Linked DNA regions of Homo sapiens. The protein of the gene in region 3 purifies or fractionates together with the protein of the main gene of each other region. This does not show direct contact. Each region holds a gene or a part of one and is shown on either strand. Other genes may lie near its edges.

Evidence for each region.
Region 1: the proteins of CLCN4 (region 3) and MCOLN1 fractionate together in Homo sapiens (co-fractionation; one large-scale study listed by BioGRID). This does not show direct contact.
Region 2: the proteins of CLCN4 (region 3) and LYSMD4 fractionate together in Homo sapiens (co-fractionation; one large-scale study listed by BioGRID). This does not show direct contact.

Annotation. Positions count from the first base shown.
Region 1 is NC_000019.10:7,525,587-7,529,236, forward strand, and holds part of MCOLN1 (mucolipin-1), read left to right. Parts: intron 1-852; coding exon 853-1,020; intron 1,021-1,174; coding exon 1,175-1,340; intron 1,341-1,933; coding exon 1,934-2,042; intron 2,043-2,277; coding exon 2,278-2,374; intron 2,375-2,571; coding exon 2,572-2,671; intron 2,672-3,010; coding exon 3,011-3,117; intron 3,118-3,234; coding exon 3,235-3,384; intron 3,385-3,514; coding exon 3,515-3,616; intron 3,617-3,650. UniProt on the Homo sapiens protein: Nonselective cation channel probably playing a role in the regulation of membrane trafficking events and of metal homeostasis. Acts as a Ca(2+)-permeable cation channel with inwardly rectifying activity.
Region 2 is NC_000015.10:99,726,820-99,730,502, reverse strand, and holds the end of LYSMD4 (lysM and putative peptidoglycan-binding domain-containing protein 4), read left to right. Parts: intron 1-771; coding exon 772-1,380; 3' UTR 1,381-3,098; downstream 3,099-3,683.
Region 3 is NC_000023.11:10,229,921-10,233,570, forward strand, and holds part of CLCN4 (H(+)/Cl(-) exchange transporter 4), read left to right. Parts: intron 1-3,573; coding exon 3,574-3,650. UniProt on the Homo sapiens protein: Strongly outwardly rectifying, electrogenic H(+)/Cl(-)exchanger which mediates the exchange of chloride ions against protons.

The DNA.
Region 1 (3,650 bases), on a different chromosome or scaffold from region 3:
AGGCAGTCTGACACCATGTTGACCCAATGGCTGCACAGATAGTTCTCCCTCCCCCATGCCAGACCCTGTGCTGGGCTCTGGGAACCCCAAGATGAATCAGACCCAGCCACTGCCCTAAGTGCTTACTTCATGTTTTGGGCTGACTTTAGCATGTCACCATGCCTCTAATTTTCCCTCTGAAAAGGGACCCAATTGTCCAGGCATGGTGGCTCATGCCTGTAATGCCAGCACTTTGGGAGGCTGAGTTGGGTGGATCATTTGAGGCCAGGAGTTTGAGACCAGCCTGGCCAACATTGCAAAACCCCGTCTCTACTAAAAATACAAAAATTAGCTGGGTTTGGTGGCAGGTACCTGTAACTCAGCTACTCAGGAGGCTGAGACAGGAGAATTGCTTGAACCCAGGGGGTGGAGGTTGTAGTGAGCTGAGATCATACCATGGCACTCCAACTTGGGCAACAGAGTGAGACTCTGTCTCAAAAAAGAAAAGAAAAGGGACCCAGTCATGGTACTTACCCTGAAAGTTTGGGTTTAACACAGAATCGGACATCCAGTAAACATTTAATGAACGTTAGTCCCTGCAGTGAGATAGATGAGTCCCCACCCTGTGTTGTACGGGGGAGGACACAGTGGTGGGCGTGGCATGGAGCTTATGCCAGGAGGTGGGGTGAAATTAATCAAAGCAAAGAAATGCACAAGTGAAATCCGTGTTTGTGGCCCAAGTTAGCAGGGCCCTGCCCCACCCCAGTGGACATCTGCAGGGCCCTCCCTGTCCTCTTCCAGGGCCTGTGCCCTGAGGGAGATACACCCCAACCCCCATCCTAGCCATGCCAACCTCTACTACCCTCTCCCCAGCTCATCCTGTTTGGGCTCAGTAATCAGCTGGCTGTGACATTCCGGGAAGAGAACACCATCGCCTTCCGACACCTCTTCCTGCTGGGCTACTCGGACGGAGCGGATGACACCTTCGCAGCCTACACGCGGGAGCAGCTGTACCAGGCCATCTTCCATGCTGTGGACCAGGTGCTGGTGGGCGGGCAGGTGCTGGTGGGCAGGCAGGTGCAGGTGGGCGGGCAGGTGCAGTTGGGCGGGCAGGTGCTGGTGGGCGGGCAGGTGCAGGTGGGTGGGCTGCAGAGAGCGGGCCGGACTCACAGGCCCTCCCCTTCTCTGCCCACAGTACCTGGCGTTGCCTGACGTGTCACTGGGCCGGTATGCGTATGTCCGTGGTGGGGGTGACCCTTGGACCAATGGCTCAGGGCTTGCTCTCTGCCAGCGGTACTACCACCGAGGCCACGTGGACCCGGCCAACGACACATTTGACATTGATCCGATGGTGGTTACTGGTGAGTGGGCAGGACGAGGCTTCACTGTTGGGAGCCTGAGCTGCTGGGATTAAAATCAACAGCTGTGGCTGGGCACGGTGGCTCACGCCTATAATACCAGCACTTTGGGAGGCTGAGGAGGAAGGATTGCTTGAGGCCAGAAGTTTGAGACCAGCCTGGGCCACGTAGGAAGACCTTGTCTCTACGCACAAACAAATTAGCTGGGCGTGGTGGCGTGCCCCTGTGGTCCCAGCTACTCAGGAGGCTGAGGCAGGAGGATCGCTTGAGTCCGGGAGGTTGAGGCTGCAGTAAGCTATGACCACGCTGCTGCACTCCACCCTGGGTGACAGAGTGAGACCCTGTCTCAAAAAAAAAAAAAAAAAAAAAAAACAAGTATGCTTAGTGTGAGTGTGACTCTTGCCACGTAGAAAGCACCAGATGTTATATTTTAATATGGCTCATTCAGTAAAACATCCGCAGGCCCAGAGAGTGCCAGGCCTGTAGGAATGACCCAACCCTGGGGAAGCACAGGGAAGAAGGCCACTGGGGACTCTGGGGAGACCAGCCTGGCCTCCCCGGCCCCCTGAGGCCCTTCCCTGACTCCCTGTCCTTAGACTGCATCCAGGTGGATCCCCCCGAGCGGCCCCCTCCGCCCCCCAGCGACGATCTCACCCTCTTGGAAAGCAGCTCCAGTTACAAGAACCTCACGCTCAAATTCCACAAGTACTGCCTGCTCACTCGAGGGGGGCCCAGGGTGGGGGAGGCAGCACACTAGGCACTCTCACCCCAGCAACTACTTCCCTAAGGTGGGGACAGGGCCCCCCCGCCCGCGCTGGTGCCTGCTGGGTGAGCACTTCCCCTGCCAGCTGCAGAGTCAGCACGTGGCAGGGGACGCTGGCACTTGGGGCCGGAAGGGACCCGAAGACGCCCCTGACCCTCACCCGAGCCTCCTGCCTAGGCTGGTCAATGTCACCATCCACTTCCGGCTGAAGACCATTAACCTCCAGAGCCTCATCAATAATGAGATCCCGGACTGCTATACCTTCAGCGTCCTGGTGAGGCCCCCCGGGAACCCACAGGGCTCCTGAGTTCCAGGGCAGGGACCTGGTCAGGGAGTGTCTTGGGAGCACTGGCCAAGGGCAAGCGTGCGGGTGATGAGGGAGGGAGCCCGGGGTCTGTCAGGCCACCTGTCATGTGGACCTTGGGGCTTGGGGCTGCCAAGGTTTACTCTGCCCCCAACTGGCCCCCACAGATCACGTTTGACAACAAAGCACACAGTGGGCGGATCCCCATCAGCCTGGAGACCCAGGCCCACATCCAGGAGTGTAAGCACCCCAGTGTCTTCCAGCACGGTGAGCCCCTGAGCCCCAGACCAGCACTGACCAGGGGCCCTGGCCTGTCCTGGGATTCCCCAAGCCCCAGATCAGCGCTGCCTGGGGGCCGTGACCTCCCCAGGAATCCGCTGAGCCTCAGATCAGCACAGACCAGGGACCCCGTCCTGTGCTGAGATCCCCCAAGCCCCAGACCAGCACTGACCGGGGTTCTTGACTCACCCCAAGCAAGCCCTGAGCCCACTGACCAACCAAAACCAGCCGTGCAGCCCCCTAGGTCTCCAGCCTGGCCTGGCACCAATGCTAGCCTCCCAAGGCTCCATGCCATCCTTGGCCCTACCCGCTCTGCCCTCCCCGCAGGAGACAACAGCTTCCGGCTCCTGTTTGACGTGGTGGTCATCCTCACCTGCTCCCTGTCCTTCCTCCTCTGCGCCCGCTCACTCCTTCGAGGCTTCCTGCTGCAGAACGTGAGGCTTCTGCGTCATGTGTGCTGGTGTCCTCCCCGCCTGGCCCTGGGGCGATAAAAGCCAGGGCTTTGAGGGTCCTGTGCCTGGTCAGGCCCTCACCCCGCCTGCCTTCTGCAGGAGTTTGTGGGGTTCATGTGGCGGCAGCGGGGACGGGTCATCAGCCTGTGGGAGCGGCTGGAATTTGTCAATGGCTGGTACATCCTGCTCGTCACCAGCGATGTGCTCACCATCTCGGGCACCATCATGAAGATCGGCATCGAGGCCAAGGTGCGTCCTGCCAACACCCTGGGCCCCAGGTCCCATCCCTGCTGTCAGTGCCTATCCGGGGCCATATCCTCCCCCAGGCCCCCCAAAGGAAGGGCTGGGCCAGATAGGTTGACGCAGCTCCCACCCGCAGAACTTGGCGAGCTACGACGTCTGCAGCATCCTCCTGGGCACCTCGACGCTGCTGGTGTGGGTGGGCGTGATCCGCTACCTGACCTTCTTCCACAACTACAATGTGAGTTTTGCACATGCAGCTGGGCCTTCCACAT
Region 2 (3,683 bases), on a different chromosome or scaffold from region 3:
CATCTCTGATGCTTTTGGAAAGTTTTCAAACATTAGTTTGAGGGAGGGGTTACCCTTTGACTTACATTCTCCCTGCTTCTTAAATCTTCGTGTTTGATTATGAGAGGAGTTTGTCATGAACTTTGTTACTTGATAAAACTCACAGCATTATTCCTTTTTCCTGACAGTTAAGTACAGTAACTGTAAGTCACTTTTATTTAATAAGTTTACATGCCCCACAGTGTTTCTGGGAAAGAAAATGCCGAGGGCATATCTGTCAACTTTATTACAGGTAAACTGGATTTTGAGTGTGTCTGCAGAGCTGGCTGAGGCTGTGTGTTTGGTGAATGCTAACATCTGGCAGCCACTGAGTTCTGGCATGAGGGGGAAGGCAGGCAGATGGGGGCACTATTGCCTCAAAAGTGAAAGGTGGAAAAGGCTGCAACATTCCTTTCAGTGCCATGGTGGTTTCGCCCAAAGCGATTTGTTGCAGTCACACTTTAAACAGTTTAAGAAAGATCTGTTTTTCAAAACTGATCTTAAATTGTTCAAACCTGTAAATCTTTAGGAATATCTGATTACTAAACTATATATTGAGGTTGAGTGAAAGCCAAAAAAACAAAATTTCAGCCTAAACTAACTTTGTGTACAGCTGCAGTTTTCCAGTCTTCATCAGATTCGTCAGTGAAGTGGGCTTGAATCATCACCCAGAAAGATTAAGAGCCACTTTTTGGAAAGTTATTTTTAAGGAGCTCCGCATATTTTATGATGTTTATCTTCGTGCCTTCCTAGGTTGCAGATATCAAGAAAGTCAACAACTTCATCAGAGAACAAGACTTATATGCTTTGAAATCTGTTAAGATTCCAGTGAGAAACCATGGGATCCTGATGGAGACCCACAAAGAACTGAAACCCCTTCTGAGCCCGTCTTCCGAGACCACAGTGACCGTGGAACTGCCAGAGGCAGACAGAGCAGGCGCGGGCACCGGTGCCCAGGCCGGCCAACTGATGGGCTTCTTTAAGGGGATTGACCAGGATATTGAGCGTGCAGTGCAGTCAGAAATCTTTCTACATGAAAGTTACTGCATGGACACCTCCCATCAGCCACTGCTCCCGGCACCTCCGAAGACGCCTATGGATGGTGCAGATTGTGGCATTCAGTGGTGGAATGCTGTTTTCATCATGCTGCTGATTGGTATTGTCTTGCCTGTCTTTTATTTGGTCTACTTTAAAATACAAGCTAGTGGTGAGACCCCTAATAGCTTGAACACAACTGTCATCCCCAATGGCTCGATGGCAATGGGTACAGTTCCAGGGCAAGCCCCCAGACTAGCAGTTGCAGTGCCAGCCGTCACTTCTGCAGACAGCCAGTTCAGTCAGACCACCCAAGCGGGGAGCTAAGCTTTGTTTTTAAAGACTAGGCCCAGCTTTAGCAATTGGCTGTTGATGTGCCTCAGCTGTCACTGGCGATGTCCTAGGGGTGCTGCATTTTGCTTCCGGGGAAGGATGGACACTTTTCAGAAGTCACTGCAGTATTCCCAATTGCACTGGCCCTGGGCATGGCCTTACCCAGTCTAAGCTGGCAGGATCTAAAACAGCAGCGACCTCGGCCCCTATCCAGAGAGGTGCAGCAAGAGAGCCATTTCCCTGTGACATTTAGTGGACTGGCCAGTTCATAGCAGCACTGTGAGGACCCCCAAGTTGGACGTGCTCGGAGGGAAAGATTTATGGCCTCTGTCGAGGGACCTGCAGCGTGAGAGCCAGTGGCATCTGCGCGGCTTGCCTGGCTCTTGCTGTATCCTCACTTCCTGTGGAGCGGGGATTGGCTCTGAGAAGGAGTGTTCTCTGTCTGCCTGGCAAAGGTGCTGTGGAATAGGCTTGGCATGCCACCCTGTTTTAGAGAGTGACAGTTACAGTTGTAACAAGCCTACTTCATATTGGCCCCCTCAGTTAGCCTTTTTGAGGCAATGCCATTTCTAGAGTTGAAAAAGCCCTGGACCCAAACTGCGGCACTGTTGAATAAAGGGCAGTCCTACTCCTGTCCTTTTAGAGTGGCTTAGTGTGACACACAGGCATCTCCCAGGCCAAGCACACACAGGCTGCGCCCAGTTCCGCAGGAGCCGTCCCACAGCGTGGCTCTCTGGATTCTCCCACTTGTCCTCCTTGGAAGGAGCTCTTGCTGGCCAGTGTTTGGAGGGGAGGATGAGTGCCTGTCACTGAGGCCTCACTATGGTTGGCGTCTGAAGCTGGGCGGTCGTCAGGCCTGTGCTGAGAGCCGCAGCCCCTGTGCACACCTAACACAGGGCGCTCCCCCTGCTGCTTCCCTGGCTCAGTTCTTCGGAGCTCCAGAGTGAGAAGGCCGCTTCGTCCTTTTTCTCTGGGTGATGCCCTTAGAATAACACTATATGCAATGTAACTCACAATGTTCCAGGACCAAAGACTTGATGGAGGGGCTAGAGGCGACCCTTGTTGTAAAAGGCGATCAGAACACCTGAGGGAGGAAGGGGCTTGCAGTTTTCCCAGCCCTTCTCGCTGCCAAGGCAGCAGTGGTGCTGTGGATGGGCTGGGGACTGCGGGACAGAGCCTGCTACTACTTGGGAGTTGGTGCTGCCCTGTGGCATGGAGGGGTGGGAGGGGCTGAGATGGCTGCTGGCCCGGCCTCCAAGAGTTCTGGACAGGAGGCAGACACTGCCCAGATGCTCGGTGGAGGGACAGTGATGGCCTTTGACTCATGAGGCCTGGAGAAAAGTATCAAAGGTCTCACCATGTAAGAGTGATTTCCGATTTCTCTCCTTTCAGTTGTGTGAAAAAACAGCTGGCCTGGGTTCCATTAGCAAATTAAATCATCTTCAATCTTAAATTAGAAACCAGAATGATCTTCAGGATAAAAAGAACTTCTGAATCTCTGCAATAGGAAATGTTTCGATCATGCAAGTGCTTTCCCAGCCAAATGTCTGTGCTCTCTGTGTCACTGAGGGCCACAGGTTCCTCTAACATCTGTCACTGTCACTTCACCAGGCAGGCCTTGGAGTTCCATGACAAAATCACTTTTGTCAGACAAAGAATGTATCCTTTACTTTTCTCAAATGGAATAAAATTATTTCTTCTGTGGAGGAAAATTGATTCCCCCTTTTTATTTAATTTTTTTTTGGAGACAGTCTCACTCCTTCCCCCAGGCTGGAGTGCAGTGGTGCGATCTGGGCTCACTGCAACCTCCACCTCCCGGGTTCAAGCGATTCTCCTGCCTCAGCCTCCTGAGTAGCTGGGATTGCTATCACACATCACCATGCCTGGCTGATTTTTGCATTTTTAGTAGAGATGGGGTTTAGCCATGTTGGCCAGGCTGATTTCGAACTCCTGACCTCAGATAATCTGCCCACCTCAGCCTCCCTAAGTGCTAGGATTACAGACGTGAGCCACTGCACCTGCCTCAACCTTTTAAAATTTGGGGATTGATAATTTAGCGTTAAAAGATGTGGGATGCTGCTGGAGAAGATGGAGGTGTCTGTCAGGAGTGAGGACTGTGCCTGTTCCCTGCACCTGGCCACCAACTTGGGGCTTGTACTGTGCCCGAGGTTACTCAGACAGGTGCAGGACAAAGTGGTGACCAGTGCTCTAGGGATGATTGATCACTGATTGATCTGTATACAGGCTTTAATATTGCTTTATTAGGTGTATATAAGAAATAACCACGATACTTCCTA
Region 3 (3,650 bases):
TTGATACTGGCATGCAATGCATAATAATCACATCATAGAGAATGGGGCATCCACCCCCTCAAGCATTTACCCTTTGTGTTACAAACTATCCAGCTGTACTCTTTTCATACACCTGTTTGCTATTTGTATGTCTTCTTTTGAGAAATGTCTATCCAAATATTTTGCCCGTTTTTTTGATCAGATTATTAGATTTTTCCCTATAGAGTTGTTTGAGCTCCTTATATATTCTGCTTATTAATCCCTTGTCAGATGGGTAGTTTGCTAGTGTTTTCTCCCATTCTGTGGGTTGTCTCTTCACTTTGTTGATTGGGAAACCTTTATTTCTTATGTGGGCCTCTGGCTCTGACATGCCTCAAGTCTGGAGGCCTGGACTGCTCTTCTCAGCAGCAATACATGGCTGCCAAAGCAAAAGGGCAACTCTAATGAGACCGGGGCCCACTAAAGCTTTTGCAACCGTAGAAGCAGGGTGATTTGGCGAAGTATTGGGTAACAGTGCCCTTGAGAAAATGTGTATCTCTGGTTGATTGATTGCAATGGGCCCTCATTATGACAGTTGAGCCCGAAGCAGCTAAAACAAATCAGGATGGAAAGAAATGGTTTCAGGCTCTGCCAGCTGGACCCAGCAACCTTCCTGTGTGAGGAGACCAGAGCCCTTGTTGGGCCTTGAATCTGTCAACTGTGTTCATACTCACAGATGGGTTTTCCCAGGAGAACTCAGCATCTCACCGCAAAGAAGAGTGCTAACATTTGTTTCCTTTAGGTAGCTCTTGTTTCAGGATTATAACAACATTTAGGCTTACAGAACAATTGAGCAAAATATGCAGAGTTCTCATATATCCCCTTCACTCCCCTCAGTTTCCCCTATTGTCAATATCTTGCATTACTGTTGTATTTGTTGTAATTGATGAACCAATATCAATACATTATTATTAACTAACATCCATAGTTTACTTTAGAGTGTACTCTGTGTCATATATTTCTGTGGATTTTGACAAATATATAATATCATGTGTCCACCATTACAGGATGATACAGAGTAGTTTCACTGCCCTAAAAATCCCCTGTGCTCTGCCTATTTATCCCTCTCTTCCACCCACCAAACCCTGACAACCACTGATCTTTTTACTGTCTCCATAGTTTAGCCTTTTCCAGAATGTTGCATATTATGTAGTTGGAATCATTCAGTATGTAGCCTTTTCAGACTGGCTTCTTTCACTCAGCAATACACATTTTGATTTTTCTCCACGTCTTTTCATGACTTGATAGCACTTTTGTTTTTATTGCTGAAGAATATCCATTGTCTGGATATGCCATGGTTCAGTTTATCCAGTCACCTACTAAAGAAAATGTTGGTTGCTTCCAGGTTTTGGCAATTATGAATGAAGCAGACGTCTTCTAAGACGTTTTCTTTACATAACTACCAAACCATGATGATGTAAAATTAACAGTAACTCAATATATCATCCAATATCCAGTTGATATTCATTCAAATATCAACTCAGAATTCCATCAAGGTTTGTGCATTGCATTCTTTTGCCTTTTTAGTCTCTTGTCTAGAACAGTTTCCTGCCTTGTTGTTGTTTTTTTAATGAGAGATTTTTAAACATAATTCCAAATTTTATTTTAGACACAGGAGATACATGTGCAGGTTTGTTACTTGCAAAGATTTCCTTTGAAGAGTCCAGACCAGTAGTCTCACATTCTGGGTCTGATTACTTCCTCATGATTCAGTTTGGCATAAGTCGTTTTTGGCAGCATTCCAACATAGGTAACGCTATGGAGTCTGCTTTTCTGACTTTGTTGATGATAAGCTCCATTGCTCGGATGAGGTGGTGATGGCCAGAACCCTCCATTGTAAAGTGACATTTTTCTCTTTGTTCATAATCTGTAGGAAAGTACTTTGAGACCATGTGAATTTTCTGTTTTCCAGCAACCATTCGCCCAGTGATTTTGGTATCCATTGACAATTATTGCCTAAGCTAACTATTACATTGGGGGTTGCAAAGTATTAATTATCAAATTCTGTCCTGCTTCCTACGTTTATCAAGTATTCCTCCCCATTTAAGAAAAACAATCCCTGTAGGGTCATGATATATTCTTTTAATGTTTTTGTAATTCATATTGTCATTATTCTGTTTGCTTAGCATGCTCTTTCACTATTTTCCTCTCTCCTAAAGATGTTGCCATGAGATGGAGGGGAAGGGGTCTTATTTGCTGTCTCTCTCAGTGTGATACATAGGGAAACCAACACAAGAAACGGATACCTTTTCCAAGACTGTTTAAGGTCCAGTGTTGTCAGAGCCAAAAAAGTCAGAATTCTGGCCTGACAGTTTGAATAATCAGTGTCTATTTCACCAGGTGTAACTGATTTGAATACTGCTTAGAATACTTACATCCCTTCTTCATATTCACTAAGAGATAAATTTGACTAATTTTGCCTTAATTAAATAAATGACAGTATATTACAGTTAGGTTTTCTGATTTCTTTTGTATATTATCATATTACACAGAGTAGAAACCCATTATTTTAATAGCTATAAAGTATTTTAATGCAAGACTACCAGAGTTTGCTTCTGCATACCCCTTTTTTGGGGGGTACAGTGGAGATACAGTGAGTAGTGTTTTGCAAACTTATGTGGGAATGGAGCTTCTTTTTTTCCAAAGAAGTTGTTCACTTCTCCTTCTCTCAGACCTTTCATTTTACCCAAGGGACATGATGTGTTCCTGCAGGTGGTCATTTAGTAAAATAATGAAACAAGGCTTGCTATGAATGGTTGTGCAAATGTGCACTGTATAATCCAGAGGGCACAATTTCTACTGCAGTGTTTGTGAGCAGTGCTCCTTGGCACTGTGTGATATACAGTCTTGGTGGTCCCATACAATGGACTCTGGGAAGTGGCATTCTTTTTGTAAGTTGAAAGCAATGGAATTTTGGAAGAGAAGGCAATTTACGTATATAGTCAGAGATAAATGTCAACTTTATCCTCCCAGTAAGAATTACAAATAGAATCACTTTTTATCTTGTACTTAAAATTTCTTATACTTAAAATACCTTACACTTGGCATTCCTGTGGTGTGGTCAAGTTTTGACAATGCCTTTCATAAACCCTTTTAAAATTGATTATAGTCTTGAAATTTAAGAGGATATAGTAGTCATCATAGGTTTACTGCCGTAATAAACAAGCTTGCAATCTCTGTGGCCTAATGCAATAAAGGTTTATTTTTCTCACATGTTACATCCACTGTGGATTGCAGGTGGGCTCTGGACCTAGGTGTTTGAATCTGGTGGCTCCTAAGTCAATCCTCAGAGCCCTTCACTGGCTCCTGTGCCTCTGGCTGCCAGATGAGAAGAGAGAGTGGGGGGAAATGCACAGGAGACCTGGGAGCAGCATCTGTCACTTCCACCCACAGGCATTGGCCAGTGCTCCCTCCATTGGCTCTGCCTAACCACAAGGGAGGCTGGGAAATGTTGTCTGTCTCTGTGTCCACATGGAAAAGGCACTGGGGTTTAGGGAGAGGGATGAGTCGTCGTTTCAAGGCTGACCTCTTTTCTCTATTTTGTTTCTTCTCCAGGAGACTTCTTGGCATCATCACAAAAAAGGATGTTCTGAGACATATGGCCCAGATGGCAAACCAGGACCCCGAATCCA